Regions from separate parts of the Homo sapiens genome. Here all the other regions are linked to region 1. The links come from fine-mapping of genetic effects on gene expression. A gene starts in region 1. Each other region holds a variant in brackets. All regions are shown on one strand. Distances are from middle to middle. Region 1 holds the start of LINC01239 (long intergenic non-protein coding RNA 1239). Region 2 overlaps LINC01239 (long intergenic non-protein coding RNA 1239). Region 3 has its middle 39 kb from the start of DMRTA1. Region 4 has its middle 92 kb from the start of LINC01239. Region 5 overlaps LINC01239 (long intergenic non-protein coding RNA 1239). Region 6 has its middle 54 kb from the start of DMRTA1.

Region 1 (5,079 bases):
TTACCATTCTCAGTATTAAATATCTTTCCCAGTTAAAAGGATGAAATCTGTAGATTCCCTCCTCCCCATTTTGCAATCCATCAACTTTACAGAAAACTATTGATTGTTTTCCAGTGAATATAAAAACATAACTAATATGTAGTGAATTATTATGAGCTCGCCACTGACTAAAGCACTTTAAATGTATTAATATTATCTCATTTAACTTCAAATTAATGACTCTTTTCCCCTACTTTTAGATAATGATACTCAGAGAAGTAGAGAAGCTGGCCTAACATCACAAACCTATGCTGTTGTGGAGCTGGCATTTGAAACCAGGTGTTTTCATTACATTCTCTGATTTTAAATACTTTCAAAAAAGCAGGAAATCTACATGGACTTCAAAGAAAATTGCCTAAGAATATCTTCTTTGAATGCATGCTTTTAACATTAATGTTTTTTCAGGATTATTATATCAACTGGATTTCTCACACTCAGTTTCAGTTTCTTCACCACTCAAATATGCATAGTTTCTCCTCCTTGGGTAGAAGCCACAGTGTTCCTCAGTTACAAGGAGTGCTTTATATGAGAAATGGCATAAACAACTGTTGATACTTGTTATGGAGAAAAGTCAAATAACTCAGAAGCATGTGAAATCTGAAGTTTAATATTTTGAAAGAGTTGCTATGTAGAAAACAGGTGGCAGAACTAGAACCCATGGAGGAAAATTAAGGGATGAAGATTTTGGTTCAACACCAGAAAAAAATATTTTTAAAAAGAAATGTAATTAGTGTTGTCTAAATCATAATTGAACAGTCTCAGGAAGCAATGAGCTCTCTGTGGATAAACTCATATTCTGGAATGTAATAAGGCAAAGATGTAATAGAAAATGATCCAGCAATAGATGGGGATAGAAAAAATATAAGCATATAGTTATATAGTTTGTGTCAGTTTCCTCATGATTGTCAAGGGTTGGTGGAGGGTTAGAGAAGAGGAGGTCGCAGGATGCTATGGATTGAATATCTGCATACCCTTACCCCCAAATCAAGTTAGTATGTTGAAGTTTAATCATTAAAATGATGGTATTTATAGGTGGAGCCTTTGGGAGGTAATTAGGACATGAGGGTGGAACCCTAGGAATGAGATTCATGCCCTTATAAAAAGAGATATGAGAGGGCTTGTGTCCTGTCCGCTTTCCTCCATGTGTGTTAGATTGAGCAGCTAAAACAGATACACCATACATTGGGTAGCTTATGTGACCACACAGTTCTGGAGGCTGGGAAGTCCAAGATGAAGGTGTCAGTAGATCTAGTGTCTGGTGAAGGCTGGCTTCCTGGTTTGCAGATGGCTGCTTTTCCCTTATATTCCCACATGGAGGAAAGCCAAAAGAAGCAAGCCCTCTCATATCTCTTTTTATAAGGGCACTAATCTCAGATGAGACAGAGCAACATAGAATGAAAAAATAAAAAGAACAAAATAGGGAGCATGAAATTTTAGTGACTTGACAAACAATAGACATTTTTCTTTCTCTGCTCATACATCGACAGAAACTGGGAATATTTTTGTCATATTCTGCCACACTTGAACAAATTTCAGTGGAGGCATCATAACTGAGCCTGTGTTAAGACCAAACCTTTACTTGACTTACAAAACTTTCTGTGAGTTTTTTTCTTAGTATGGTTGATTTCTTCAAGAAAAAGGATGTAAGTTTACCAATAAGGTATTTAAAGTACAAGTTACTTAATTCTTTATTAGCAAATAGTTGGCTGCTAATTTTTGCTTCTGAAAACACTTAATAATTAAAGGCTACAATATTTATATCTCAAGAAACGTCTCAGGTTTTTTCTCGTCACTAAGCTTAAATCTTACTCTTAAGCAAAAATATTTTAAATTTGAAAACATACATTGTATTTGACTATTAGCTTTTTTTTTAAAGAGAAGTCATTAAACTTAAAGCTAAAAATAAATTTTATATTTATGTGTAGCAGTTACCATATTGATGTGCTAAAAAGTTTATAGATTTAGCTACCGCAATAACAACTTTCTAATCAAAAGTTGAGACTGTTGTGAACAACTCTTTTGTGAATATAACCTAGCATTGTACAGTATAGATTGACTATCGCATATGCAAAATGCTTGGAACCAAAAGTGTTTCAGATTTCAGATTTTTTTTTTTTCAGATTTGGGAATATTTATTTGCATATGCATAATGAGACATCTTAAGGATGGGACACAAGTCTAAACACAAAATTCATTTATGTTTAATATACACTGTATACACAAAACTGAAGATAATTTTATATAATATTTTACGTAACTTTGTACCTGAAACAAAGTTCTGTCTGTGTTTTGACTGAGATTTGTCATATGAAATCAAGTGTGGAATTTTCCACTTGTGGCATCATGTCAGCAATCAAAAAGTTTAGATTTTGGAGCATTTCCAGTTTTGAACTTTTGGATTAGAGATGCTCAACCTGTATTTCCTACAAACTGTCATTAGGAAAAATCAGAAGACTAATTATTGTCTAAATTTTACCGTCTAGAATTTCTAATATCATTCAGCATTTTCAACTTTTTTCTTAATAGTTTCATATTGGACTGCTTGCTTCAAATTCACACATTAACCTAATAATTAAAAGCTAGTGGAAAGAATTATCAGATTAAAGCCTTAATTTCTACAAAGCATAAGTTAATAGAGAAAAACAAGTGCAAAGAGAGGCACCAGGTGGTTCATAGGACCTTCAGGTAAAACAAATGAGATTTTATTAGGCTTACAGATAGAATTTTTGCCTGTGTGTCAAGGGATAACAGGAGTGTTGATTTGAGTGGCTTATGAAACAGGCATGTTTAGCTCAGCAATATTACTCATCACTTGGCTTTTTAATCTGCCAAGAGATGGGTACGATTTGCACTTATGAACTGTGTGTAATTATGGTGATTCAGGTTTTGGCTTATAATGAATCCTCCATCACAGTCTGTTTTCTCGGTCTTTTATTTTCTGTTCCTCTAAGGGAAGAGAGACCAAAGAGAATTCTACTTTGACCCTGGCTTAAGAGTGGAACATAGATGTCTATAAAACTATGTGGTATGTACATTTATAAAAATTTTAATTTGCATTTTCTCTAGGTTTTATGTTTTTGGTGATAACAGAATAAAGTGTGCATGCCATCCAAGATAAATGGATGAAGGAAGTTCACTTCTTTTTAATTATCTTATACTGACAGATAAAGCAAAATAGAAAAAAAATTCTGTATTTAACCTTAACAAGCTGAGACACACTAGAGAAGTGGAAAATAGATTGTGTGCATCTGATCGTGCTGCACATTCCCTTTAGGTTGCAATCTCTGCTGTTATTACCGACAACAACTGAGACTACAGTTTTAACTCTGTATTTACTTCTAGTTATCCCACAATTGGTACATAGTATTGGATGGAGCCCTGTATTTCAAGGAGTTCAACTACCTAATTTTCATAGCTGAGATAACTAAGTTTCTGAGTCCGTTTTCCTTTTTCCAGTCTGATCTCTCCTTTTCTCAAGGCTACTTTCGTTTCTGATAACATACTAAAGGTTATAGGATTTATCGGTATTTTGCCTCCTGGGGTCATTTGTTATTAAAAAAGAAACTCTATTCAAATAACTGAATCTCTACTATTGGATTTTCCAAAGCTATGATAGACCAGCTAGTGAAACTATTTTGTACTGGAATTTGGCAGGGTGATGGGGTGGGGAGAAGGTGTGGAGAGGAATTCTTGTCCTCAGTCCTGATATTTCTTTCCAGGTGAATGTGGTCTTCCGTGTGCTACACTCCTTGCCTCTCTCTGCTCTTCTATTCACTATCTACCAGAGAAGATGGAGTGATTCACTCTGATTAATAAATTTGGAAAAAATCAATTAGACATGCTCCGAATAGTTCCACCCTTTTTGTCTTAGAAGACAGCTGCCCTCAGAGAGCAAGATTTTACCTTTGTAAATTGGTACACATGATCTAGCTTAGCATTGCTTTTAACAGGGGGAAGTCTGTATAATTCCTGGATTATTATCATGCCAGTGGGTTCTCATATTATACTTTATCCTCCAAATTAATTTTTTGTGGTGAAATTGATGCTTTTACTTCTTTTCTTTTCTTTTCTTTTTTTTTTTTTTTTTTTGAGACGGAGTCTCACTCTGTAGCCCAGGCTGGAGTGCAGTGGTGCCATCTTGGCTCACTGCAAGCTCCGCCTCCCGGGTTAGCGCCATTCTCCTGCCTCAGCCTCCCGAGTAGCTGGGACTACAGGCACCCGCCACCACGCCCGGCTAATTTTTGTATTTTTAGTAGAGACGGGGCTTCACTGTGTTAGCCAGGATGATCTTGATCTCCTGACCTTGTGATCCACCCGCCTCGGCCTCCCAAAGTGCTGGGATTACAGGCGTGAGCCACCGCGCCCAGCCGATGCTTTTATTTCTATCTTCTCATTTGTGTAAAGTGAATAATGATATCTCACTGTGATTTCTAGTTCATTTTTGTGACTCACAAATATAGATACTACTTCCGTTATATTACCTGTTTATTTTCTTATGTGAATTGCTTTCTCATACCCTTTTCTAAATTTTCTCTTCAGTACTTTACAAAGGGATTTGAAAGTGAGTTTGGTGATAATACGAAAGTATTTCAAGTGGACAAAGTGCAAATAATAGTATCAGTTGATGTTAGCATACACACACAGGAATGTCTTCTTTTATAGTAAAATTTATTTATTTATTTATTTATTTATTTATTTATTTATTTATTTATGACAGAGTCTTGCTCTGTCGCCCATGCTGGAGTGCAGTGGCCCTATCTCGGCTCACTACAAGCTCAGCCTCCCAGGTTCACGCCATTCTCCTGCCTCAGCTTCCCGAGTAGCTGGGACTACAGGCGCCCGCCACCACACCTGGCTAATTTTTTGTATTGTTGTTAGTAGAGACGGGGTCTCACCGTGTTAGCCAGGATGGTCTGGATCTCCTGACCTCGTGATCCGCCCGCCTCGGCCTCCCAAAGTGCTGGGTATAGTAAAATATTGAGTGTGTGTGTATATGATAGAGAGAAAATAATACTAATTTTAAGAGAGTTATATGAAAAT
Region 2 (5,079 bases), 120 kb after region 1:
GATTCCTCAGGGATCTAGAACTAGAAATACCATTTGACCCAGCCATCCCATTACTGGGTATATACCCAAAGGATTATAAATCATCATGCTGCTATAAAGACACACGCACATGTATGTTTACTGCAGCACTATTCACAATAGCAAAGACTTGGAACCAACCCAAATGTCCAACAATGATAGACTGGATTAAGAAAATGTGGCACATATACACCATGGAATACTATGCAGCCATAAAAAATGATGAGTTCATGTGCTTTGTAGGGACATGGATGAAGCTGGAGACCATCATTCTCAGCAAACTATCGCAAGGACAAAAAAACCAAACACTGCATGTTCTCATTCATAGGTGGGAATTGAACAATGAGAAACATGGACACAGGAAGGGGAACATCACACAGTGGGAACTGTTGTGGGGTTGGGGGAGGGGGGAGGGATAGCATTAGGAGATATACCTAATGCTAAATGACGAGTTAATGGGTGCAGCACACCATCATGGCACATGTATACATACGTAACAAACCTGCACGTTGTGCACATGTACCCTAAAACTTAAAGTATAATAATTAAATGAATTAATTAACTTTAAAATAAAACATTTTATTAAATATGAAAAAAAAAAGAAGAAGAATCCATGGGAAAAACAGGGAGGGGTGTAAAGTTCTCCAGGGAGTGGTGAAGCAACTGAAGATTTCTTACCATTTTTCCATGAGGATAGTTGCTGATCTGGACCTTAATAGAGGCTGAGAATCAGGATCAGGACTTGCTAGATGGCTATTTACCAGGAACAAGAATTTATGAGAATTTGGATTCCCTGTATAAGGTTAGGATGACAAAATACAATTAGGTTATTTTGCCCTGACTTTCAAATTCATAGTGTTGTAATAATAAAATATATATTCATTTGTGCCTGGCTTCCTTTGTGCAACCTAGTGTTTTAGAGATTTATTAAGTTATTTATTATATCAGCAGTTTGTTCTTTTTAATATGATTGCTCAGTGTTACTTTGTATGAATATACCACAATTTGTTTATCTTTTCTGCTGTTGGACATTTGCATTGCTTCTAAGTGTTAGCTGTTATGAATTAAGCTCTATTAGGTTATTGTACATGTGCTTTGTGATTATATGCCCAGATTTATCTGAGTATGCACTTAGAAGAATTGCTATGTGACATAGTAGTCTATGTTTTATTTCAGTAGATAGTGTCAAAGAGTTTTCTAAAATGATTGTAAAAATGTTCCTTTCCACCAGCAAAATTCTGCGCATTTTCACTGACACTTAGTATTCATTATTTTTTACTTAAACATTCCGGTGAATGTGTAATTATAATCTTAGTTTGAATTTAATTTGCATTTTCCTGATGAATAATGATAGTAATGTAGTTGAGTTCCTTTTCATATATCTTTGGTTTGAATATGCTACTTTGTGAATTGCCTGATCATCTCTGCCATTTTAAAATTTGGATTGTTTACCTCTTCCTGATTGTTTTGTAGGAGTGTATTATGCATTCTGGATATAAGCCTTTTACCAGATTCTTGTATTGTAAATATTTTTTTCCAGTCTGTGGCTTGCTTATTCAATTCTTAATCATGATTTTGAGAAACAGAAGTTTTTAATTTTAATGTAATTCAGTTGAGTTTTATATTTGTTGTCATTGCTTTTCCTGTTTAAGAAACCTTTGCGTAATCCTAAGTCAGGAATATATTCTGTTTTTTTTTTTCCCCACACAAGTTTGACTGCTTTAATTTTAGATTTAGGTCTAAGATCAAATTCACATTTATATTTAAGAATAGTATGAAGTAAATCTCAAGGTTCATAATTTTTCCATATAGATAACCAAACATTCTACTGTCACTTACAGAAAAGTCCATCCTCTTTTGCTCTAATTAGGTGACTATATTGGAGTGACTGGAAATATGTGGGTATATTTCTAGGTTTTCTTTTCTGTCCATTGGTCTATTTGTCTAACAATGCACAATTAACTCCTCAATTAATATAACTTTATCATGTCTTGAAATTTGAGAATATAAGACCTCTAATGTTGTTCTTTGCTATTTAAGATTGTCTTCGTTTTTTGGGGGAACTTTTGTTTCTATATAAGTTTTATGATCAGCTCATCAATCTTCACCAAAAAAATTGCTGACATGTTGATTGCAACTATATTAAATTTATAGATCAATATTTAGTAATTTGGCATCTTAACAATATTGAACTTTCATAAACTTTCTAATGTTTTAAGTATTCTTTAGTTTCTCCAAATAACATTTCAACATTTTTAGAATAAAAGTCTTGTATATCTTTTACTGCATCATTACTATGTGAATTTTTATGAAATTATTAATCATATTTTAAATTTTTATTTATAATTGTTTATTGTTGGCATATACAAACACAAATAAATTTTCTACATTAACCTTGGATCCACCCAACTTCTTTAATCCATTTTTGAATTATAATGGTCTGTAGATTATTTTGAATTTTCTACATGAAATTATATCATCTTAGAATAAAAATTTACTCTTTCTGTATTAGTACGTATTACCACAATAATACTATGTAGAAAGTTGACTTTAAACTCACTGTTCTAATAATTATTCATATTGTGAATTTGAAAATCAGAGATTTAGGTTTGGTGGGATTTTTGTTTGTTTGGTTTGTGTTTTGTTTGTTTGTTTGTTTGTGTCTTCCTGAGTTACATTTT[C/A]TGTCTACAGTTGGCTGGCTATGCAGTGAAGCTCCATATGTCCCACATTCATTCTTCAGAATAACTTGGGCAAGTTCTCATGGTGAAAGTAGAGGTGCAAAGGTAAACAAGTCCAATTATCTAAGTATGTGCGAAGTCTCTATTTGTGTCTTGTTTACAAACAGCACGTGGCCAAAGCTATGAATCACAACATTAAGGGCTGAGTAAAATTTCCTGCCCAGACTTGGACAGTACTTGAAACTTGTATACGAAAAGAACAGATATAAAGAGGGGAGAAAGAATTTGGGCTGAAATTCAATCTATCACACTTTCCCAACCTAATAGCTCATATTTCTTTTTGTTTGATGAGTTAGTTCATCAGTACAATGCTGATAGGAAGACTGATAGTTAACATTTATGTCGTGTTTCTATATGTAATAGGAAGGATCTGGAGTACATTTTTGATGAATATAAAATTTTAAGTTTATGGTTTTCTTCTTTCAGCTCTTCAAGCATTTTTTCCTACTGTCTAATGAACAGTCTGTATTAATTTTAGTTTTGTTCCTGTCTTTATAAGTTTACCTGTTCTCTCTTTTTCAAAATAAACTGTTAATTTTAGAGCCATTTTAGATTTACAGAAAAATTGTGAAGAGAGTACAGAGTTGCCATTACCCCCATAAATGCAGGTTTTTCCTGTTTTAACATCTTACATTAGTGTGGTAAATTTGTTACAATTAATTAGGCAATATTTATACATTAGTATTAAATACATCCATATTCTATTCAGATTTTGTTCATAATGTTCTTTTTTGTTCCAGGATTTCATCTGAATACCAAATTACTTTTGGTCATCATGTCTTCTTAAGCTCCTCTTGGCTGTGACACTCTCAGACAAGAATTTTGATAATCATGTTTTTATAACCTTGACAGTTTTCTAGAGTACAGTCAGGTATTTCCCACAATGAGAGTTGTATGATGCTTTCCTATAATTAGACTGGGATGATGGGGATACATGGAGGGAAGGCACAGAAGTAAGGCATGGAGGTAAATCATCGTGGAAAAGCTATTTTATCACAGTATGCCAAGTGTACATAACATTGTAGATGTAAACCATGATTACCTGGATGAGGTAGCAATTGCAGATTTTCTTACTGTAAAGTTATTCTTTTTCCTCCCTTGTTATATAGCACCATTTGGAAGCAAGTCACTACGCATAATTCACAATTGAGTAATAAAGATTTATGCTTCACCTCTTTGAAGGTAGAGTATCTACATATATTATTTGACATTCATCTCTATTTGTTCAGTCATTTATTCATATCAATATGGATTCATGGATAATTACATGGGTACTTTATACTTTGGCTTATAATACAATACCACCTTTTATTTTACTGTTCAGATGTTTCCAGCTTTGGACAATGGGAGCTCTTTCAGGTGACTCTTAGTCCCTTTGACATAATACATCATTGTGTTTAGTATGTTTGTTTCACTTTTTAAATTTTTCTTCATTTTCAAACACTATAAGATGCCAAAAACTCATCTTGCATATTAACTGCCCACGTCTTAGAATTAGATATTTCTCTAAGAAGCCCTGATTCCTTTTGTTGGTAGTGTCAGTCCTCCAAATTTGTTCTTCTTCATTATTAGGTTGATTATTTATTCTAGGTCTTTTATCTTCTCATATAAACTTCACAAAAAATTTTCTACTTTTTCCATTAAAGCCTTTAATATATTAATTATAGTTCATTTTAATCCCCTCTCTGATAATTTCATTGTCAACTTTATATCTGCATCTGGTTTTGATACTTTTTTTCTCTTCAGAATCTGTTCGTTCTTGCCTTTTGCCATGTTTAAAGTCAGACATGATGTATCAGGTAATAAAAACTGAAGTACACGTTTAGTGTAAAGGTTTTTGTTAATCTGGGTGCTTTAAACTGTATTTAATATCTGATGGGCTGTGCTTAATGTGTATGCGTCTGCAGGTGTCAGAGGTTTCAAATTTCTCCAGTGACCTTATTTTTGTGTCACTGGTTGACTTGGGCTTCCCTCAGTATTCCTCCTCAAATAATCTTTGTCTCACAACTCTTTTAGCTGAAATACAATGTATTATTTTAGAGCCCTGTTTTTTTGGTGGTAAGTTGTGAAGGAGAGGAAGCATTCTGTAATATTAAAATTAAATTTTGCTATTTTATTGGGCCTGTGCTCCTGGCTCTGACCTTCACAAGTGTTTCTTAAATTCCTTCTTTCACTGTGCATGAAACAGGAAGGCTCAAGAGGGTTGCAGTGAGAGTAAGCCCATTCCTCCAAGTAGGATAAAGCTATGGCAAAGCTTTATCCTGTGGACAGTAGGCGTTTGTAATAGAAGGATGCTGTTAGCTTATTTCTTTTTCCCTTCTTC
Region 3 (5,079 bases), 160 kb before region 1:
CTAGAAGACACAGTATGGCAAATTCCCCATAGTACATATTCTAAACTTTGCCATTCAGGTGGAACTGTTTGAAAAACCACATTTTGTGCTTCACTTCCTTCCTTTTCCTGAGTTTATTCCCTTTTACTTCTATTGGTAGCACTTAAAGTGATCCTTCCTGCTTTGAACAATTCACCATGTAAATAAAATAACATCAAAGAACCAGACTTAATACACTCCATTCCAGCATGGGCTCCCACAGGTTGATCTGAAGGAGACTGAAGAATTAATCACCCAGGATAGAAGCCTCAAGCTTTTCATATGCTTAATGCTCAAGTCACTTTCACAAAAAATGCTCTCCTTCCCTTTTGTTTTTATGTTTAGTTTTCTAAACACTGTCATTCTGTTTCCGCTTCAGCTCCAGATCCCCAGGATGTCTTGGCACCAAACACATGTAAAACAGATAAACACCTTCTTGCACACTCTAACAAGTGCAGCAATTAGTCTCTGAGCACAGCTTGCTCTCCACCATGGCAACTCATTTGGTGCTGTTTGTTATCATAGGAAAACAACTTTGAATCAGCAACATTTGTTTGATTCCCCAGTTTTCACCCCTGTTGGCATGGTGGCTTCTGTATATCCTTTTCATATCATAAGTTCTGCACCTCTAAGAAATGAGCTGCACCCAGCATACAGCACTTGACTCCTGTATGTCACCTTGTCACATTCTCTTGGAACTTTCAGCTCTGGGTAATCTTCACTCCATATGGGCTGTGATAACTACTTGCCATGGTGTGAATGATAGATAATTTCAGTCCGGACATTTTTTTCTTTCCTTTTTTTACATAATAGTAGAAACTTAGCATTAATAATCCTTGTTATATGTTTATAAACAGCCTATATTCCAAGATGCAAAATGTTATTTGCTATATACTCAAGGGGGTATATTTAGCAGGTGAGAGAACACTTTTCTTCTATTTTCTTGATGCCACAGAGAGGCTAAAGAATTTCTCTGAGTTGTTGCATAAATTGTAAAGTTGGATGTAAAGTCCTTATAAGGTGTTTATTTTATGTATTACCTTACCTTCCCCAATTATATTATTTCAGAAGTACTGGATTTTTGAAGAGAGTATGCGGGGCTAAAATACGTTGAAATTTGTCTTCTGTCCTGAAGCATGGTAAAGAAAGTTATGAATAAGAGTGCCTGTTTTCATCAGTGATGTATAATAAACCATATTTTCTTGTGTAAATTAGTATTATTGTTATTGGTGGCAAATTCATATGGGTCTGCAGTAACCTCAGTTCTTGCCTCCTCAGAAGAAATAATTTGACCAAGGAGGGCATAAGGCAGAAGGACAGACCAAGGCAAGTTTTAGAGCAGGAGTGAAAGTTTATTAAAAAGCTTCAGAGCACATTAATTTTGTATCCTGAGACTTTGCTGAAGTTGCCTATCGGCTTAAGGAGATTTTAGGCTGAGACGATGGGGTTTTCTAGATATACAAACATGTCATCTGCAAACAGGGACAATTTGACTTCCTCTTTTCCTAATTGAATACCCTTTATTTCCTTCTCCTGCCTGATTGCCCTGGCCAGAACTTCCAACACTATGTTGAATAGGAGTGGCAAAAATCACAAGCATTCTTATACACCAATAACAGACAAACAGAGAGCCAAATCATGAATGAACTCCCATTCACAATTGCTTCAAAGAGAATCAAATACCTAGGAATCCAACTTAAAAGGGACGTGAAGGACCTCTTCAAGGAGAACTACAAACCACTGCTCAATGAAATAAAAGAGGATACAAACACATGGAAGAACATTCCATGCTCATGGGTAGGAAGAATCAATATCGTGAAAATGTCCATACTGCCCAAGGTAATTTATAGATTCAATGCCATCCCCATCAAGCTACCAATGCCTTTCTTCACAGAATTGGAAAAAACCACTTTAAAGTTCATATGGAACCAAAAAAGAGCCTGCATCGCCATGTCAATCCTAAGCCAAAAGAACAAAGCTGGAGGCATCATGCTACCTGACTTCAAAATATACTACAAGGCTACAGTAACAAAAACAACATGGTACTGGTACCAAAACAGATGTATAGACCAACGGAACAGAACAGATGCCTCAGAAATAACGCCACACATCTACAACCATCTGATTTTTGACAAACCTGACAAAAACTAGCAATGGGGAAAGGATTCCCTATTTAATAAATGGTGTTGGGAAAACTGGCTAACCATATGCAGAAAGCTGAAACTGAATCCCTTCCTTACACCTTATACAAAAATTAATTCAAGATGGATTAAAGACTTAAACTCTTTATACATTTAAGAAATATTTATTGAAACTCTACTATATGTTAGGCATTGTGCTAAAAGCTAGGTAAAGTGAGTGCACTAAAGTAGATACATACTCTTCTGCCTTCAGATATGTTATGTTCTAGTGTATGTGACAAGTACTAAGAAAAATAATTATACATTAAGTGTTAAAAAGGAAATAACAAGGTGAGACTGAGACAAGTGGGGATGGAAGGGAAGTATGTTATATAAGGTAATAGGGGCAACTTTGCAGATTTTGGTTTCCTTGGAAATCACAGTCACTAGAAAAACCACACTGACTATTTCTGCTTATTTATGTCCTTGCATTCTGTTGCAAGGAGAGGATAATGGTATGGGAGAAATATGAGGTTTGATTTCAGAAAAGGTTAGTGAAAACATGTTTTTGCCTTGTGCTTACCATTCAAGGTGTCTTGGAGAAATTTGTTTTTTTCGCTGGACTTGTTTCCTTCTCTGTTGTAATGCTTATTATAGAGGTACTTACTCACCAAGCTGCTAAGAGGTACAACAGTTGTTATCAGAATGCCAAGCCAAGTATTTAAATATGTTGATAGGACTGCATTTGATAACGGCACTTAGCAGATCTTTATTGGTTCTGCATATGTCAAAAGCTAGAGTTCCTTGACGTGACTTAGCCAGTTTAGTCTATGACATTAGAATGTCTGCATCTATAAATATATAAGCCAGACTTAGGCTTTCAAAGATGCTGATGAAGAGCTACAGCCATTTTTACTTTGAATGGAACAGAATGATTTTTGTTGTAACTATTATGAAGTCAAATTTATAAAC[T/C]TGTGAGAATATGTGGTGGAGCTATCCAGCTAGGTAGTCTTGGTTTCATCCTGGTGGGTTCAGCGTTCTCTAAACACACACTAGTGTTGCAGCTGCTGTGTTGTTAGGCAATGTTATTGGTTTTAGGATGTTGGACAAATACCTATCAAATGATATGCACAGAGGATTGCATGACAAATATCTGATTTCAAAGATGATAGGAAACATGAAAGCAGGGGCCCAACACTTATATACAGATGAGTACATCTTATAAGTTACAGGTATTTATCTGGTTGTCTTAAGCAAATGTTCGTTATGGCCATCAGTTTACACATTGGTACTCAGCTGTACCTTTAGTGATATTTCCTTCTATTCATCCTTCTTTATTCCCGGTATAATCATTCTAAGATAATGTTGGTGTTAAGAGGTCAAAAGCGGGATTCTATCAAATGCTCTGAAATATGCAAAAATATGGTTTACATTTTCTAAAGCATGCTTGAGAGGTTCTAACATCTATTGATTTTTTGAAGGTATCTGTTACACACAGATACTAAATCCTAGCCCTATATATTACTGTAGAAGGTATTTAAAAAACTGATGAAATGACAAACAAAAGATTGAATCAGCTATATACCAGGAACTATGCTAAATTATTTTACATTACTTCTTAATTTCTTAATTGCTCTTATTTCTAGTATTTCTACCAACTCTGTATAGCCTCCCAATTATTCTTCAAAGTGACCCAACCTATCATGTCTTTAATTATCATTACATGCTTAGTTTTTAAAGTTGCTTTTTCCTGTTCTTGGTCATCACTTGTGCTAGTGTTCTTTGCTTTCAAACTGTCTTCAGAATAAGTCAACAGATATTGTGGCAGCTTCTCAAATACAGTAAGTCCCAAGCTAAGTAGGTCATTCCTAAGTGTTCTCAATCCTCCAGTAAAAGTGTTCTTTTTCTCAGTTTCTCTACTTTTGTCTCTGATTTTTAAAATTTTTCCTTGTGTGTCAGTCTGGAATATTCAAAGTCATTTTGGTTTCTTTTCTTGTCTTTGCGTTCTTTATCAAATCTGTTCCTAGATTCTATTTTTCCTATCAATTACATCTTTAATTTACCCATTTCTTTGTTCTTCTCAATCCATAACTTAGAGCTTCAAAATCTATTTCCAAATTATTTTTCAGTGAACACTCTTGCCTTTCCTTGTTGTTTCTTTTTTTTTCTTTTTTTCCATTTATTTTATCTTATTTTATTATTATTATACTTTAAGTTTTAGGGTACATGTGCACAATATGCAGCTTAGTTACATATGTATACATGTGCCATGCTGGTGTGCTGCACCCATTAACTCGTCATTTAGCATTAGGTATATCTCCTAAAGCTATCCCTCCCCACTCCCCTAACCCCACAATAGTCCCCAGAGTGTGATGTTGCCCTTCCTGTGTCCATGTGTTCTCATTGTTCAATTCCCACCTATGAGTGAGAGTATGCGGTGTTTGGTTTTTTGTTCTTGCGATAGTTTACTGAGAATGATGATTTCCAATTTCATCCATGTCCCTACAAAGGACATGAACTCATCATTTTTTATGGCTGCATAGTATTCCATGGTGTATATGTGCCACATTTTCTTAATCCAGTCTATCATTGTTGGACATTTGGGTTGGTTCCAAGTCTTTGCTATTGTGAATAGTGCTGCAATAAACATACGTGTGCATGTGTCTTTATAGCAGCATGATTTATAGTCCTTTGTGCATATACCCAGTAATGGGATGGCTGGGTCAAATGGTATTTCTAGTTCTAGATCCCTGAGGAATCGCCACACTGACTTCCACAATGGTCGAACTAGTTTACAGTCCCACCAACAGTGTAAAAGTGTTCCTATTTCTCCACATCCTCTCCAGCACCTGTTGTTTCCTGACTTTTTAATGATTGCCATTCTAACTGGTGTGAGATGGTATCTCACTGTGGTTTTGATTTGCGTTTCTCTGATGTTCTG
Region 4 (5,079 bases), 92 kb before region 1:
CCAGAACCTGTGTATATGTTATGTTGCGTGGGAAGGAGAGGATTGAGGTTACTAATCAGCTGACATTAAAATGGAGAGTTTATCCTGAATTATATGTGTGGTTCCAATGCAATCACAAAGGTTCTTAAGAGTGAAGGAAGGAGACAGAAGAGTCAGAATCAGAGTGCTGTTATGTGAGAAAGACATGACCAACAGTTGCTTGCTTTGAAGTGGAAGACAGCCACAAGCCAAGCAAGGTATGCAGCCTGCAGAACCCAGAAAGTCAAGAAAACAGATTCTCCCCTGAAGTCTGCTGAAAAGAATGCAGTTCTGCCAACACCTTGATTTTAGACAGATCTATCCCACATAGATCTCACTGGGAAGAACTGTAAAATGATAAATTTGTGTAATTTCAAGCCAAGAAATGTTTAATATTTGTTATAGCGGCAATGGCAACTAATATAGCGTTACTAAAGTGAAAACATTTGAGTTGAGTAGGTATCTAAAATTGAGTTTCAGTTCTTCTTTTTAATTAACTTTCAGCAAATTATTAAAGTTATTAAACATCTACAATAAAAAGAATGATTATTAACTTTCAGGATATAAAAGTAAAGAAAATAATATACACTTTAAAAATCTGAACCATATGTTAAACACTGTGTGCTAAAAATTATATAAACATTTGAAATCAAAATTATTAAGAATAAAACAAAGTTCTGGTTTTTAAGGAATTTGTATTCAAATTTAGAAGAAAGACATTTAAATGAACAAATTTAAGTAGAAATTAAGTAGAAGATGATATTATTATAGAGAAAATAGCAAATTATTGGAGAGTGTTAAAAGACGTGCCAAAAATATTTGGAGATGTTATATCTAGGATGAATTTTGAAAGATGAATACATTTTGCCAGGTGAATATTAATGTAAATATACTTAGAATTTTATTCACTATTGACGAGGGTTTTTGTTTCGGCAGATTTTTTTTTGATAAAGTTAAGGAAATATTTATTTATTCCCATGCTTAAAATATTTTTTAAATCAGGAATAGTTTTGAATTTTATGAAACACATTTTTGGTCTCTGTGGGAATAAAGATTGTTTTACCTTCTAGCATTGCAATTCTGGGGAAAGTCAGTGGAATTTACAAGTTATATATTGCCAAGTTCTGCTTGCTAAATTTTTTTTTTTTAAACAACATGATTGAGGTATATTTTTCCTTTGGTAAAATGGGTGTTTTTTGTAATTTTGATTAATCTAGTGAGGAAAGAACCAGCTTTTTGTGTCATAATTTTTTTTATTGGTTTTCCATTTTTTATTTCATTAGTCTCAGTTCTGATCTTTACTTTTTCCCCACTTCTACTTATTAATGTTTAATTTGCTCTTCATTTTCTAGTTTCTTACGATGGACACTTAGATAATTTAGTTTAGATATTTTTTTCTTCTAATACACACATTTAAAGTCATAAGTAAGCCAGATGTGGTTCCAGCTATGCAGGAGGCTGAGGTGGGAGGATGTTTTCACTTCAGGAGTTAGATGCTTCAGTGATCCATGATCATGCCAATGCACTGCAGCCTGGGAAACAGAGGGAGACCCTGTCTCAATAAATAAATAAATAGACAAACGAATAAATAAATATTCTAAATACTGCTTTAGCTGCATCTCACAGATTTTGATATCTCACATTTTATCATTCAATTGAAAATATTTCTAAATTTCACTTATGATTTCTTTGTTAACCCAATGGTTATTGTCAAGTGTGTTGTTTAATTTAGAAACACTGAGAATTTCTCAAGTAATTTTTTGATGTTTATTTATTTAAAAAATTACACCTAGTAAAATTTACTCTTTTGGTGTACAGTTCTATGTGTTTTTCCAAATGCTAGGTACCTTGTAGCTACTACCGTCAAACTATAGAACAGTTCTATTACCTTCCTAAAATTTATATTTGTGTGTGCTTTGTAGTCAGTATCTCCCTGCACTCTTGTTCTCTGTCTATGTAGATTTTGCTTTTTGAGACTTCAAAATGAATTATGTGTTTGTTCTCTATTAGGTACTGTCTTTTTACTTTCTCTTAAGACTGTTGTTACCAAGATGAACAAATACCTTTACTGCAGCTGCAGTTTCAGTATCAGGTTAATATCCTGATATTAATATTGTTAATATTCTGGT[A/G]TTATTAATTTTATCTTTGTTTTATCCCTTTGCTTAAGAGCTAAGCTCCAAGTTAATTTTTTTCCAATATTTTAGCCAATACTTCAAATTATTTTAGAATGAGAGTCTTTTGGGATATCTGCCCTGATATATATCTAAAGGCAGAAATCCAGGTCAAAATTTTTTCTCCAAACTTAGGTTAATATATACATCTGCAGATAATATGCCAAACAGTTGTCATACAAATGAGCTTGTCCAAAAGTTTCTTACTCAACACTGGTTTTGAGATCAATTCATTGTGTGTGTATGTGTAGTTTCTGTTTATTTAAAAAATAATTTATGATATTCAATCATACATATAAGTCTTATTTTCCTTCTTTCTCTGAAGGGCAAAACTCTCTCAAACTGTGTTTTCCTCTGCTCTCACACAACACAACAATCATCATTACAGAAGGAGAATTCTATGGCCAAATATGTGGGGATTTTTCCTCACATACCAAGCAGCAGACACCAGTTGGGTGCCCTCCAATTCAATTCAGATACTTTACCTAGAGATAGTGTCAGATCCCACAGGTTTAAGGCTCAGTCCCCAAGACGGACCCATTACCCCAGATACCAGTCGCAAGTCTGGGCCCCTGAAACTTCCGATTGACCAACTTCAGTTTGTGGTTTCTGTGACCTTCTCTTTGGGTTTGATTAATTTGCTGGAGCAGCTCACAGAACTCAGGGAAAAACTTATTTTTGCCAGTTTATTAGAAAGGATAGTACAAAGACTACAGATAAAGAGATGCATAAGGTAAGGTATGGCGGAAGGTGCAGGGAGCTTCCATGCCCTCCCTGGGTATGCTATCCTCCAGGAATCTGGAGGAATCACACGGTCAGTTTTCTGGAATCGCCGAACTCTGTCCTTTGGGTCTTTATGGAGACTTAATTGGTTCACTGAAACATGGACAATTGCATCAAAATGTAATTGGATGAAAAGGGTATGATCTAAACCCAGCAAGTCGTGTCTGTTAGGTCCTTCTTAGTCTTTGTGCAACATATCTTCTTCCAGAGTATGGGGCAGGACCCTCTCTGGAATGAGGGTCTTATGACCCACAATCAGATTAAAGTCCTGACATGGGCAGGTAAAAGAAGGACAGGAGAGGGTCAGAGAGAGAGATTTTGTTTCCTGAGGTCGCTTCTAAGGCCCAAATTGCCCCAACATTATAACAAAATACTGTAACAATGGTTATGAGAGTTATGAGCTACGAACTGTGAATGAAAAAATATATATATATTCATATATATGCCTATATATATTAGATATCATACTTTCTCTATTGAGGAAAATTTAGACTATTTCCTTATAAAACACCACAATTTTTAATAAATGTATTTATTAGAATTTATGTAAGTATATAGGGAAAATAGTAGGGGAAATACTATATTACATGGTATATGCCTTTTGGTTGTTCCAAACTGTCCTCCTGAGCCACTGAACCAAACTGCATTATCACTGGCAGTTTATGAGAGTAACTGATTTGTCACACCCTCAAGAACATTGATAGTGTCTGTGGGACAGATTCTATTTTTCAAAGATGGCTGCAACATATCTCTGACCCCATATGCTTTTCTTACAATGTACTTTAACAGTCCTCCATTAAGAGCTATGCTTGGCTGGGCATGTTGGCTCATGCCTGTAATCCCAGCACTTTGAAAGGCCAAGGCAGGCAGATCACCTGAGATCAGGAGATCAAGTCCAGCCTCGCCAACATGATATATAGCTCAGGCTATCACCTTATAGATAGCATATTTCTTAGATGGTGTCTAAACTCTCAATACTTCTCCAGAAAGTTCATAAAAAAGAACCCTACCATGGGGGAATCCATAGAAAAGAAAGGAGGGAGAGCTATCAACACCACACTTCTGAGTTGTATCAGCCAGCTTCTCAATAATCTCCCAGAAATCCAGGCACCCAACCGTAGGTGGGCTGTTTTTCTCCAAGTCTGAAAGTGAAAGGTGGCCCCACATAGGTGGGCATCAAATGATAAAGAAGAAAGCAGTCCTGCTACAGAAAATTTTTGTCTCAATACTTTAGTATTATTTGTTAGTTTCTTCTTTCCTTTACAAACTTGATGCAAATTGCATGAGATTTGTCTATCTTATTAATCATTTCAAAGAACAATTTTATGGACTGAATGTTTGTGTCTCACTAAAATTCATATGTTGAGATCTAATCTCTAGTGCAATGGTATTAGGAGGTGGGGCCTTCAAGATGTAATTAGGAGTAGGAGAGGTCATAAAGGTGGAGTCCTCATGAATAAAATTAATGCCTATAAGAGTCACATGACAGTGCTTTCATTCTCTGCCCTACTCTCCACCATGTGATGATACAATGAGACACTGGCCGTCTGCAACTTAGAAGAAGGCCCTCACAAGAGCCCAACCATGCTGCCAAACTAATGTTGAATTTCCACCCTTCAGAACTGTAAGAAATACATTTCTGCTGTTTATAAGCTACCCAATTTGTGGTATTTTGTTATAGCAGCCCAAGCCAACTAAGACAGGTTTCATTAAAACTTTAACAATTTCTCTTTTCTTTGTTTTTTATTATATTTTTCTTTTCTTATTCTTATTTAACTCTATGATTCTTTTCCTGGTTGTGTGAGTCGAATATATAACTGATGTATTTTAAAAATCATGTTGCTATTGAAGAAATTTATTTAAGATTATAAATGTTAATATAATTACAGGTATACCTCTAGATATTGTGGGTTTGGTTTCAAACTATAATGATGAAGTAAATATAAAAATAAAGCAAGTCACACAAATTTTTGGTTTCCCAGTACATATAAAAGTTTTGTTTATACTTATGTAGTCTATCAGATGTGAAAAAATAATGTACCTATCTTAATTAAAATGTTTTATTGCTAAAAATGCTAACAATCGTCTAAGGCTTCAGCCTGTCATA
Region 5 (5,079 bases), 25 kb after region 1:
AAGTGTGCTGTTATGGTGGAGGCATATTCATGTTGGTTCTGCATTCACAGTGAACATTTGTACCCAACTCCTAAGACCTACTAGAGATCAAATGTGTTTAAATTGAGTGTACTCAGATAGAAAGATATTCTGAAATTTCTCAGCTCTTTTCTCTATATTGTTGAAAATTATCTTTTACAATGCAAAGCCTCTTTAACTTGTAAAATATATTATTATACTTTGCTTTGAGTAATGTGCAAGTTAATGTCCCTCCCATTCCAATCATAACAGTCCCTCAGCCAACTGTAAAAGATGCTTTAATGATTATTTTCTTTACTTAATGTCTTTTTTCATCTAGGGTTAGACAAGTAGAGCTGGAGTGCCTTGCCTATGCGCTATCGTTCGTTTTAAAGATTCTTGGGGAGTTAAAAATAAAAGAAATTTAGAAAAAAGAAAGTTGAAAGTTAAATGACTGTATTAACATAGTACTAACCAGTAAATTAAGAGTGCAATGAAATAAAACAAAATTTCAAATTCAAAATGGCTTATGTCATGAAACCCTTAAGGTATTTTAAATTTTCACTGTATACAAAATTGTACAATTAGCAAGGAACAATGTGCTAATGGGTTTTAAATATTCATTTTAGGCTTATAGTTTTCAGTTTATACATTTTTTGGAGAGCTTCAATACATAAATACCACAACAATTCATTTAAAATGGTATTTTTTAGTTTCCTAAATGATTTGGATGCCCAAGTCTCTTTCTATAAAAGAATTTCTTAGTATAATAATTAGGCAATAGTTCAATTCATTCCAAATGCCTAGTAAAATTTCTCCTAACTATTAATTATATCTTAATAAAAGCTTCCAAGCGAACCAAAATTTTTTTGTTTCAAAGGGTTATAATTTTACTGATCGTATAAAAAGAAGCTAAGTTAAAGACAGCAAACCTACTGGGTAAATGGAATTCTGATCTCATTCTCTTTTTGCCTAAGTGTGCCAGAGAAAGAGTGAAAATGATGAGATTGGTGTTAAGGAAAATGTTTTTATTTGTGGGCACATGATGGATTTCTCTTGATCTTTTCCATTTTGCTGTCTTTTCCTCCTGGATTCTGACAGTACTAAATATTCTGGTACCATTCTATCCACCTCCAGCTCATTAATCAAACTCTAAGTTTCATAAGTTTAGAGGTTGTTTATTATTCTTTCAGTATCTCCAACAGTATATGTAACATATCTATTATTTAGCTACTTGACACTTAAATAAATATGTATATGTGCACATGTGTATACATGTATTTACATATGTGCACATGTGTGTATGTGTATTGTATAATAATAGAAAATTTTCTGGTCTTTGTCCCAGATTCCTGGGATAGAACTTCTAAACCCCAGACATTTCTTAAGGGAGAGGAGTATTTGTGTTGTTCATGATAGTCTCTGGGTTTATGCTTATAAGGTCACTTATGGTGGACTTTTAGATAGCTTATGTTAACAAGATAGCTCAGCATGAAGGCAGACTATGCCAGAAAAACCAACCATGTAATTAGAAGGTTGGTGCTTTGAACCAGATGATATCAGTTCAACCTCTGGGCAAGAGAGATGGATTGGAGATTGAGTTAAATCCTGTGCAATCGCACTGCATAGCAAGACTCCAGTAAAAACTCTGGACACTGGGGCTCAGATGAGCTTCTTGGTTGGGGACACATCAATGTGCTGGGAGGGTGACATGGTCCTGATTCCATGGAGAGAGGGCCTTCAAGACCCTCCTAGACCTCTTCCTCTGGCATCTAAAATGAGAGCAGTCTTGTTGGGGACTATGCCCTTGATCTGTGGGATCTGCACTAACTCTGGGAAGTTACTGACATAGTTGACTTGCAGTATTAGATAATCTGTGTTAAATATGTGTGTTAAAATATATGAATATTTCTATCTTAGAGTCGCTAATTAATAGTGGCAGCAAAGATTCTCAATCCTTATGGTTTGGAAAAGAGATTTACACCTTTACCATGAAGTGCTTTTATTGTCTTGCCCAATCTCAGAACAAAACCAATACACAGTTAGCACTATTAATCCCCTCGGAAAACTATTCTTCTGGGGTTTGAGGAAGGCTTTTAAGAGGTTTTACTACCCTATGTCTGATAAAATACTAGATAAAGACTGCATGCACAGGTTTAAAACTTGAACAGATTTTTTGGGAAAATAAGAAGGGCTTAACCATGATTTCTATTTTGTCCTTCCTATGTCCTCTTCCATTTTATGGCTTAGGTTTATTAATTTCCCCTACCTTTTCTCCATATAATTTCCTTTTCCAAAGAATGGACATTACATGCTCATTTTCACTAACATGTAAACAATGAATGGTGCTTTAGTTGTTCTCCTCCCTCTGAGCAGAGTTCTTTTTCATTCCCTTATCAATATGTCAAGAAGCCCCACTTTCTATTTTGACTCTACAAAATTGTTTCTCATAACATAGTTGGATGAAACAGGCCTGCCTCCTGTGAACTCTGTCTCCTTTGTTCTCTTTATAAAAGTAGGAAAACAGTTTATTATGTCAGACACTCTTTTAAATGCTTTGTATGTATTAGGT[C/CT]TTTTTAATCTTCAACAAACCAGGAGGTAGGTGCTATGTTAATCTTCACTTTATAGATGATTTTGTGAGACACAATGAGTTAAAAGCATTTACTCGAGAAAATTTAGCTAGTAGGTGACAGAACCAAGATTGCAATCAAGGTTATTTGATTCTGAAGTCCATACTCATAAATTATTGAGCTATGCTGCCTCACATAAAATGCTTCTCGGTGCTGGAGAACTGTGTTCTTGTTCTATCCTAGGAAGAGAAGTTTGTGAAACATTTGAAAAAATTTCTCCTATTTCCACAGTCTTATTTCTCAGGACTTTCCCATATGTTCCCTCTTTCTACTATATTGAATTCTTGGTTATTTCCTAAATGCCAGCTACTTTTTGCAACTTCCCACTTGCTTTTTTCTCTGCTTGAAGGGCCCTTCTCTATTTCTCTTTGTCACTTACTTCTACTCATTCTTCAAGTCAGCTTCAAGCTTTCCATAAAGCCCAGTATGGGGAAGTAACCATTTCTCTGTCTCTCATCAGTATCCACATACTTTTATTTGGGCACTTACCATAATCTGTGGTGACCCTTCCTTACTTCTGTTTACCTCAGAAGACTGAAACCAACCTGATAGAGGTCTTTTATCTTACATTTCTCTATCTCTAGTCCTAGCACAAATTTGAGAACCTAATAACTATTCATTAAAAGTTTGTAAACCAGAGAACAAATTAATAAAACCAGATAATAACATTGCAATATTTCTGAAACCAAGGTTTGTAACCAAAGATTTTTAATTTTTTTATATCCTAAGAGGTTCTAGGTATTGCAAAAACAAAACAATACTATTGTGAACTTACTTAATTGCATCTGAAATTTTATCTTAATCCCAGACATTGGCTTAAGGTTACAGTGAAAGAAAAAGTAGGTAAATAATTTCATCGCCTTACCCACCCTTTCGTGTTTTTAACACTTCAAACATACACCCAAACACACAAAAACACATACATATTGCCATGTGTATACTATGGATATATATACTTCGTGTGTGTGTGTGTGTGTGTGTGTGTGTGTGTGCTTGTGTATGTATATATTTCCTCATTCCCCTGCGTGGAAAGTGACAAAGTATACTATCATTTAAAATTACTTTCTTAACATCATGATAAAATCAAAATAAACTGTCACTTTTAAAGCTTTGTAATTTTATACCCCATCATCTTAACAGCTATGATTCACAGAGTTTTGAGAGTTTTTAAATAATGACTTAATCTTTGATTTTGAAATTCAGAAAAAAAATCAAAAGGAATGGATGTATTCATGATTGCAAAAGAACAATTTTATTTATGAAAATACTAACATTTATCTCTGTCTGTATATCTTGAGATCTCTCAGGATGTATGACTCTGTTTTGCAGAATAAAAGCCTTTGCTGTATGATATGAGTGAACTATTCTAATAATGAAAGAAAATCCATGCTAACCTTAAATCTGTATAACTGCATAGCACTGACCAGGAAAAGCCAACTTGAAAGGTACTGCTTATAGAAGCATGTCAGCCCCTATTTTATGGTGGATCCTGTCACTTTTCTCAGGAGAGATGTCTGGATCAGTGTGCTAAGTACTCTCCTGTTTCTAAAAATTCCCAAAGAATGTCTAAAATCAGTAGTTCACAGTTTATGTAGATCATAATACAACTGACATCTGTAAGCTGTAGAAATAGATACACACTGACATGGCTAAAAAGTACCTGCTGTTTCTGTGAAGAGAGGCCGAAGTTTTCTCTAGGAAACGTACTACATAGATAGTGATTAGTATTCCTCTAGATACCTCTGGCTTATCACAGTTGATATTCTCTTATTATGCCTTCTTCATTGGGGTACAATTCAGATTTTATGTAAATGCATACCAACAGGGATATTACTTTACTTCAAATTTGAGTTTGGTTATAGACCAATGGTTATATAATGTTACTACTTCACTAATTTTATAAGTTGCTAATAACTTTCTATGTTTATGTAGTATTTACATAATGGATGGAGGTTATCTGCCAATAGAAAACAACAAATGCCATCAGGACTTAGTTGATAGTGAATCCTGTGGTAAGAGCTTTACATGTGATTGTTCGTAAGTTCTTATTTCAATTAACAGGATGAGTTTAATGAGATTACAAAACTTGTCAACTTACCTGGGACCACACAGCTAGTAAGTGGCAAAGCCAAGGTTCAAATCCAGGACTTGCTAATTCCAGTGCCCATAGTCATCATTGTTATGTAAAACTACCTTCTTTACTGCAGATATGGAAAGGCTTTATACTACAAAACAGTAAATAACAGGGAATTAATGATGGCTGCACTGTAGAGAAACTTTTTTTTTAATGTTTTGAATTGCACTCGATCAGATAGTTGGTTTTTATTTGCCAAAGACCAGTATGATTTACAAATTCCTCCCTATTATTTCAAAGAAAACACAGTGTGATTTCCAAAGGTAAGGATACAATCATTTCTGGGAAATACTAGCTGGCATTTGCAGAGAATAATTT
Region 6 (5,079 bases), 150 kb before region 1:
CTTGTTATTGTTTCTTAAAAAAATATATACTAGCCATTGTAAAGGATGTGAAGTGATGTCTTGTAGGTTTGACTTGCATTCCTGATGATTAGTGATACTGAGCATCTTTTCACATGCTATTGGCCATTTGTACATCTTCTTTGGAGAATGCCTATTCATGTCTGTCATGGGATAAATTGCGTCCCCTCAAAAATCACATATTAAAGCCCCAATAGCTCAAAATGTAACCGTATCTGGAGATAATGTCTTGAAAGATGTAATTCCATTAAAATGAGATCATTAGGGTGGCCCCTGATCCAATATGACTGCTGTCTTATAAGAAGAGGGAATTTGAACCCAGGTGTGCACACACAGTAAAGACGATGTGAAGACAGAGGGAGAATATGGCCATCTATAAGCCAAGGAGAGTGGCCTCGGAAGAAATCTACCTTGCCAATACTTTGCTGTCAGACTTGTAGCCTCCAGAACAGTGAGAAATATTTGTTGCTTAAGCCACCCAGTCTGTGGTACTTTGTTAATGGCATCTCTATCAAATTAATACAATGTCTTCATTTATTTTTAAGTGAAGTTTTCATTGTTGTTGTTGAGTTGTAGAAGATCTTTATATATTCTATATATTAAGCCCTTTATCAGTATATGATTTGCAAATATTTTCTCTCATTTCATGTGTATACATCAAATTTTTGCAAAATATATAAAATATCTGGCTTATAGATAATACACAAGAAATGATAGCTGTTGTCAATGAGTGCACATTTATTACATTTTTAAAGTCTTCCTTATTTTTCTTTATGTGTTTGACTTTTTATTGTAAAAATGATACTTCAAAGAAAAAAGGAACATTTTAGTATAATGGAGTCTGTTGATATCAATAGAAAACGTGTAATTGTCTACTTGCAGATGACTTAGTATAAATGAAATTGGTCAAACACAGTATCTGCAAACGTTAGTTTCAAAGAAAATGCCAAGCCAAAAAGAAGAAACATTTTAGATATCAGACCAGATATATAGACAAAGCTGACTGAGTAGCATACAGCCTATGTGAGTCAATATAGTGCAGAAAAAGTTTTAATATGGCTCAAATCCTCTGAATTGATGATGTAAACATTTCAATAGATAAAGTCTAAAGTAGACAACATTAATATGTTGATTAGAGGGGGAAAATGCCAAATTATATATATAGCACCGAAAAATATACCATTATTTCCTACAGATAATTGCAAATACAAAAACTTGTAAATTAGATTAAAATTTAGTAGTTTGTATGAGCATTTTTTTGGCAAGTGGATGTGATTAACTGGTCAAAGAAATTGAAGGTAAATGCTGTTTTGCAAACAAAACCAAAATTAGGGCAAAACAGAAAAGCTCAAAGAAGACAAGTAAGCAAAAAACTTCCATGTTCATATTTTAAACTGCAAGTTTTACCCTAGGTGAGTAAAGTGGGCATATTTATTTGGGATTAGGTAGTAAGATTTCATTTTAAAAAGTGTTTTCTTATATGCATTTACTTGTAAATAGCAGCAATTATTTAAATTTTTTTCTTGTCATATAATAAGTGGATCTGTTTTAGTTTTGTCATTTGAAATTAGAAATTTAATACAAAATTTTTGAGGAAAAATAAGATAGATAAAAGAGTAAAATAAAATCCCAGAATTTTCACTTGGCAACAATTCACCTATGATTTACCAAAAATCTGTATGAGTAACCGATTTATTTGAAACAAATCATCCTAAACCTAGTATCTTGAAACAATAGCAATCAGGTGTTTTCCCAGAAATCTCCAACTGAGTAACTCTTTGTGAAGAAGATGGCTTGTGCTGTAAGAAGCATCAGCTGAAATTGCTTGATTGGAAAGCTAAAGGGTTTTCTTTCAAAATGGCTCACTCACATGGCTTGGAAGTTGGTGCAGACTGCTGGTTGCTAACTCAGTCAAGGTTGGGGACTAGGAACCCTGTGTCTTCTCTATGTGTGCCTCTCTGCAGACTCATGAGTTCCCTTAACACATAGTAGTTAGATTTTAAGAGTTAGCATGGCATTTTTTAGCCTTTACTAATCAAAAATCATACAGCTTCATTTCCACCATATGATGTTGACTGAGATAATCACAAAAGACTACCTGGGTTGAAAGAGAGGATTATAAACTCTTCCATGTAAAGGAGTTTATAATCCTCCTTTTCATACTCTTCATACCTCAAGAAGAGTATGTGGAACAGGTGATGTTGTAACCATCTTCAGAAAATACAATTTGCTGTGCTCCACACAATTTAGATTCCTTCCATATGCCAAATGCATTCATCGATTCCCCAAGAACTCTAAATTTCTTATCCCATTGTGGCGTGAACTTCAGTCTCAGAGTCCAAGATCTTGATATTTAAACCAGAGATAGCACAATTCGTTGGGAATTGATATGGTTTGGATTTGTGTTCCTGCCCAAATCTCCTGTTGAATTGTAATCCCCGTTGTTAGAGGAGAGGCCTGACAGGCGGTGGTTGGATCATGGGGCAGATTTCCCCCTTGCTATTCTCATGGTAGTGAGTTCTCACGAGGTCTGATTATTTAAAGCTGTGTAGCACCTCCCCCTTCACTCTCTTCCTCTTGCTCCAGTCATGTAAGATATGCTTGCTTCCCCTTCTGCCATGATTGAAAGTTTCCTGAAGCCTCCCCAGCCATGCTTCCTGTACATCCTATGGAACTGTGAGCCAACTAAACCCCTTCTCCTTATAAATTACCCAGTTTCGGGTATTTCTTTGTAGCAGTGTGAGAATGGAGTAATACAGGAACATTCTCTTGAGTATATTTCTTCTTGATCTGAAGATCTTTGAACTAAACATACAGTATATTCTCTCTTTTAATACATATGATAACTGCTATAGACACTCTTCTTCAAAAGCAGGAAAACGGAAGGCTCACAACAGGTCCATAGCAGCTCTGTTTAAGCTGGATCCGTATTACCAGAATCTCTGTGTATTAGTTTGTT[C/G]TCATGCTGCTATAAGGACATACCCAAGACTGGTTAATTTATAAAGAAGGAGGTTTAATTAACTCATAGTTCTGCAGGGCTGTGGAGGCCTCAGGAAACTTACAATCATGGCGGAAGGGGAAGCAAACACGTCTTCCCTCACAAGGTGGCAGGAGAGAGAAGAATGAGAGCCAAGCAAAGGGGGAAGTCCCTTATAAAACTATCAGATTTCGTGAGACTTATTTCCTACCATGAGAACAATGTGGGGAAACCTCCCCAATGATTCATTTACCTCCCGCGGGGTCCCTCCCTCCGCATGTGGGGATTATGGGAACTACAATTTAAGGTAAGATATGAGTGGGGACACAGCCAAACCATATCACTCTAATTAGGGCTAACTCATTCTTTGGTGGTTGTTCTCTGTGACTCTTTGTTCTGCCCTCTAGGTACTTTGTTCCACCATTTGTATTATCCTTTTTTTTTTCTTTTAGAAAAATGAGTTTCAACTTAATTGTCTTCTAAGCCTGCTTCCTGCCTATAATGTTTGACATCCAAAAACCGATTTTCATTTTGAACTTTCTCTGTATCATGTTGCCCAAATTGGTGGTGCTTCTGCCAGATCAATTCTTTTAAAAAACGTTGTGGGTTTTCTATAACTCTTTCTAAGGTTCACTCTGTTAGACAAAAACTACTCCCACCCATCTTTTTGAGATAAGCCTTTCTCTCCCTTGGGCTTTCTGTGAGGGGGCTGTGGGATAATGCTGTGAAGATTCTTAGAATACCTATTATTTAATGAATATGAGCCAGTAACCATGTCCTTAAGATGCATAAAGGGGCTTTTGTTTATCTGAATGCTGCTATGTGACAGTATCTTAAAGTATATTACAGTCCCTCCTGATATTCAATCTTTGGTTTGAGGCCCTTTCCTAATTTGAGAATAATTCACTGTTGGGAGAAATTGTGGATGAGAAACAGTTTCATTTTCTAATCCAGCATGTCCTGACTCCTTTATATTTTCATATTTAACAGTTTATTCTTTAATTCATCTCCTTCCTCTGGAATTTTATCATAGGCAGCAGAAAGAATCCAGGTAGTACTTTCAATATTCTGCAATAGCTAGATTATTCAGTTCAATAGATGTTGTATATTTCCTATTTTCCACATTACTGTGGACATTGTGAAGTTTTCTATAAAGGGTTCATTTCCTCTTACTTCCCTTGATATTTTTTCCACTTCCCTTTAGGCCCTTAAAAATAACATCCCTGAAGTTGAGGCCTTTCAAGCTTTCACTAGCAGTCTTCTTAAGGCCCCTCCAGCTTCTGCTCACTAACTGGTTCCAAAACCATTGGCACATATTTGAACTTTTATTATGGCAGCATCTCATCTCTGGTATCAAAATATTAATACTTCTGTTTTGCTAAGTAGCAAACCAGCATAAAACTTGGTGGCTTTAAAATATTACAGTAATTAATTTTGTTCATTAATTTAAACATTGGGCAAGTCTCTGTATAGAAAGATCTTTTCTGTTACACATAGTATCAGCTGGGATCACTCATTTGGGGTTGGAGAGTTCACGGTGGCTCATTAATAAAGCTGGCAAGTTGATGCTGGCTTAATTCAACAAGTAACATCACAATAGCCCAATAATTTTTTCATATACATATGTCATAATACTGGTAATAATAGAAAACAGTGATAGAGAGCTTACCTTTTGATAGAGGCCACACACAACTGATCTCATTGAATCTTTTTTTTTAAATATTAAAAAATGTTTATTGAGTGCATCCATCAGCCATTCTTTTATGGCTTGTAGTTTTCCTGTCTTGACAATCTCCTTCACTGAAGATCAAACTAACCTTTTAATATTTTCATTTATTTTACTTTTTTAAAAAAATTTTTTATTATACTTTAAGTTTTAGGGTACATGTGCACAACGTGCAGGTTTGTTACATATGTATACATGTGCCATGTTGGTGTGCTGCAACCATTAACTCATCATTTAACATTAGGTATATCTCCTAATGCTATCACTCCCCCCTTCCCCCACCCCACAACAGGCCCCAGAGTGTGATGTTCCCCTTCCTGTGTCCATGTGTTCTCATTGTTCAATTCCCACCTATGAG

Evidence for each region. PIP is the estimated chance that this variant, and not a neighbour inherited with it, causes the effect.
Region 2: its variant is fine-mapped to the expression of LINC01239 in subcutaneous fat (GTEx, PIP above 0.99). The same link has a PIP of 0.9 or more in aorta, atrial appendage, breast, esophagus muscle, gastroesophageal junction and minor salivary gland.
Region 3: its variant is fine-mapped to the expression of LINC01239 in prostate (GTEx, PIP 0.95).
Region 4: its variant is fine-mapped to the expression of LINC01239 in sun-exposed skin (GTEx, PIP 0.96).
Region 5: its variant is fine-mapped to the expression of LINC01239 in tibial artery (GTEx, PIP 0.93).
Region 6: its variant is fine-mapped to the expression of LINC01239 in esophagus muscle (GTEx, PIP above 0.99).

What each region holds. Positions count from the first base shown.
Region 1 is chr9:22,643,233-22,648,311 of GRCh38, forward strand. It overlaps LINC01239 (long intergenic non-protein coding RNA 1239), which reads left to right and starts at 2,968. Exons shown (of 6, transcript NR_038977.1): 1 at 2,968-3,064.
Region 2 is chr9:22,764,466-22,769,544 of GRCh38, forward strand. The region is part of intron 4 of LINC01239 (long intergenic non-protein coding RNA 1239); the gene reads left to right. Among named protein-coding and RNA genes, the nearest start is that of LINC01239, 120 kb to the left of the region's middle. The variant C/A (reference allele first, on the strand shown) is at 2,700.
Region 3 is chr9:22,483,456-22,488,534 of GRCh38, forward strand. No RefSeq gene overlaps it. Among named protein-coding and RNA genes, the nearest start is that of DMRTA1, 39 kb to the left of the region's middle. RefSeq lists an enhancer at 69-696. The variant T/C (reference allele first, on the strand shown) is at 3,111.
Region 4 is chr9:22,551,582-22,556,660 of GRCh38, forward strand. No RefSeq gene overlaps it. Among named protein-coding and RNA genes, the nearest start is that of LINC01239, 92 kb to the right of the region's middle. The variant A/G (reference allele first, on the strand shown) is at 2,148.
Region 5 is chr9:22,667,783-22,672,861 of GRCh38, forward strand. The region is part of intron 1 of LINC01239 (long intergenic non-protein coding RNA 1239); the gene reads left to right. It overlaps LOC107987054 (LINE-1 retrotransposable element ORF2 protein-like), which reads right to left. Exons shown (of 3, transcript XR_001746635.2): 2 at 4,726-4,852. Among named protein-coding and RNA genes, the nearest start is that of LINC01239, 24 kb to the left of the region's middle. The variant C/CT (reference allele first, on the strand shown) is at 2,570.
Region 6 is chr9:22,498,031-22,503,109 of GRCh38, forward strand. No RefSeq gene overlaps it. Among named protein-coding and RNA genes, the nearest start is that of DMRTA1, 54 kb to the left of the region's middle. The variant C/G (reference allele first, on the strand shown) is at 2,978.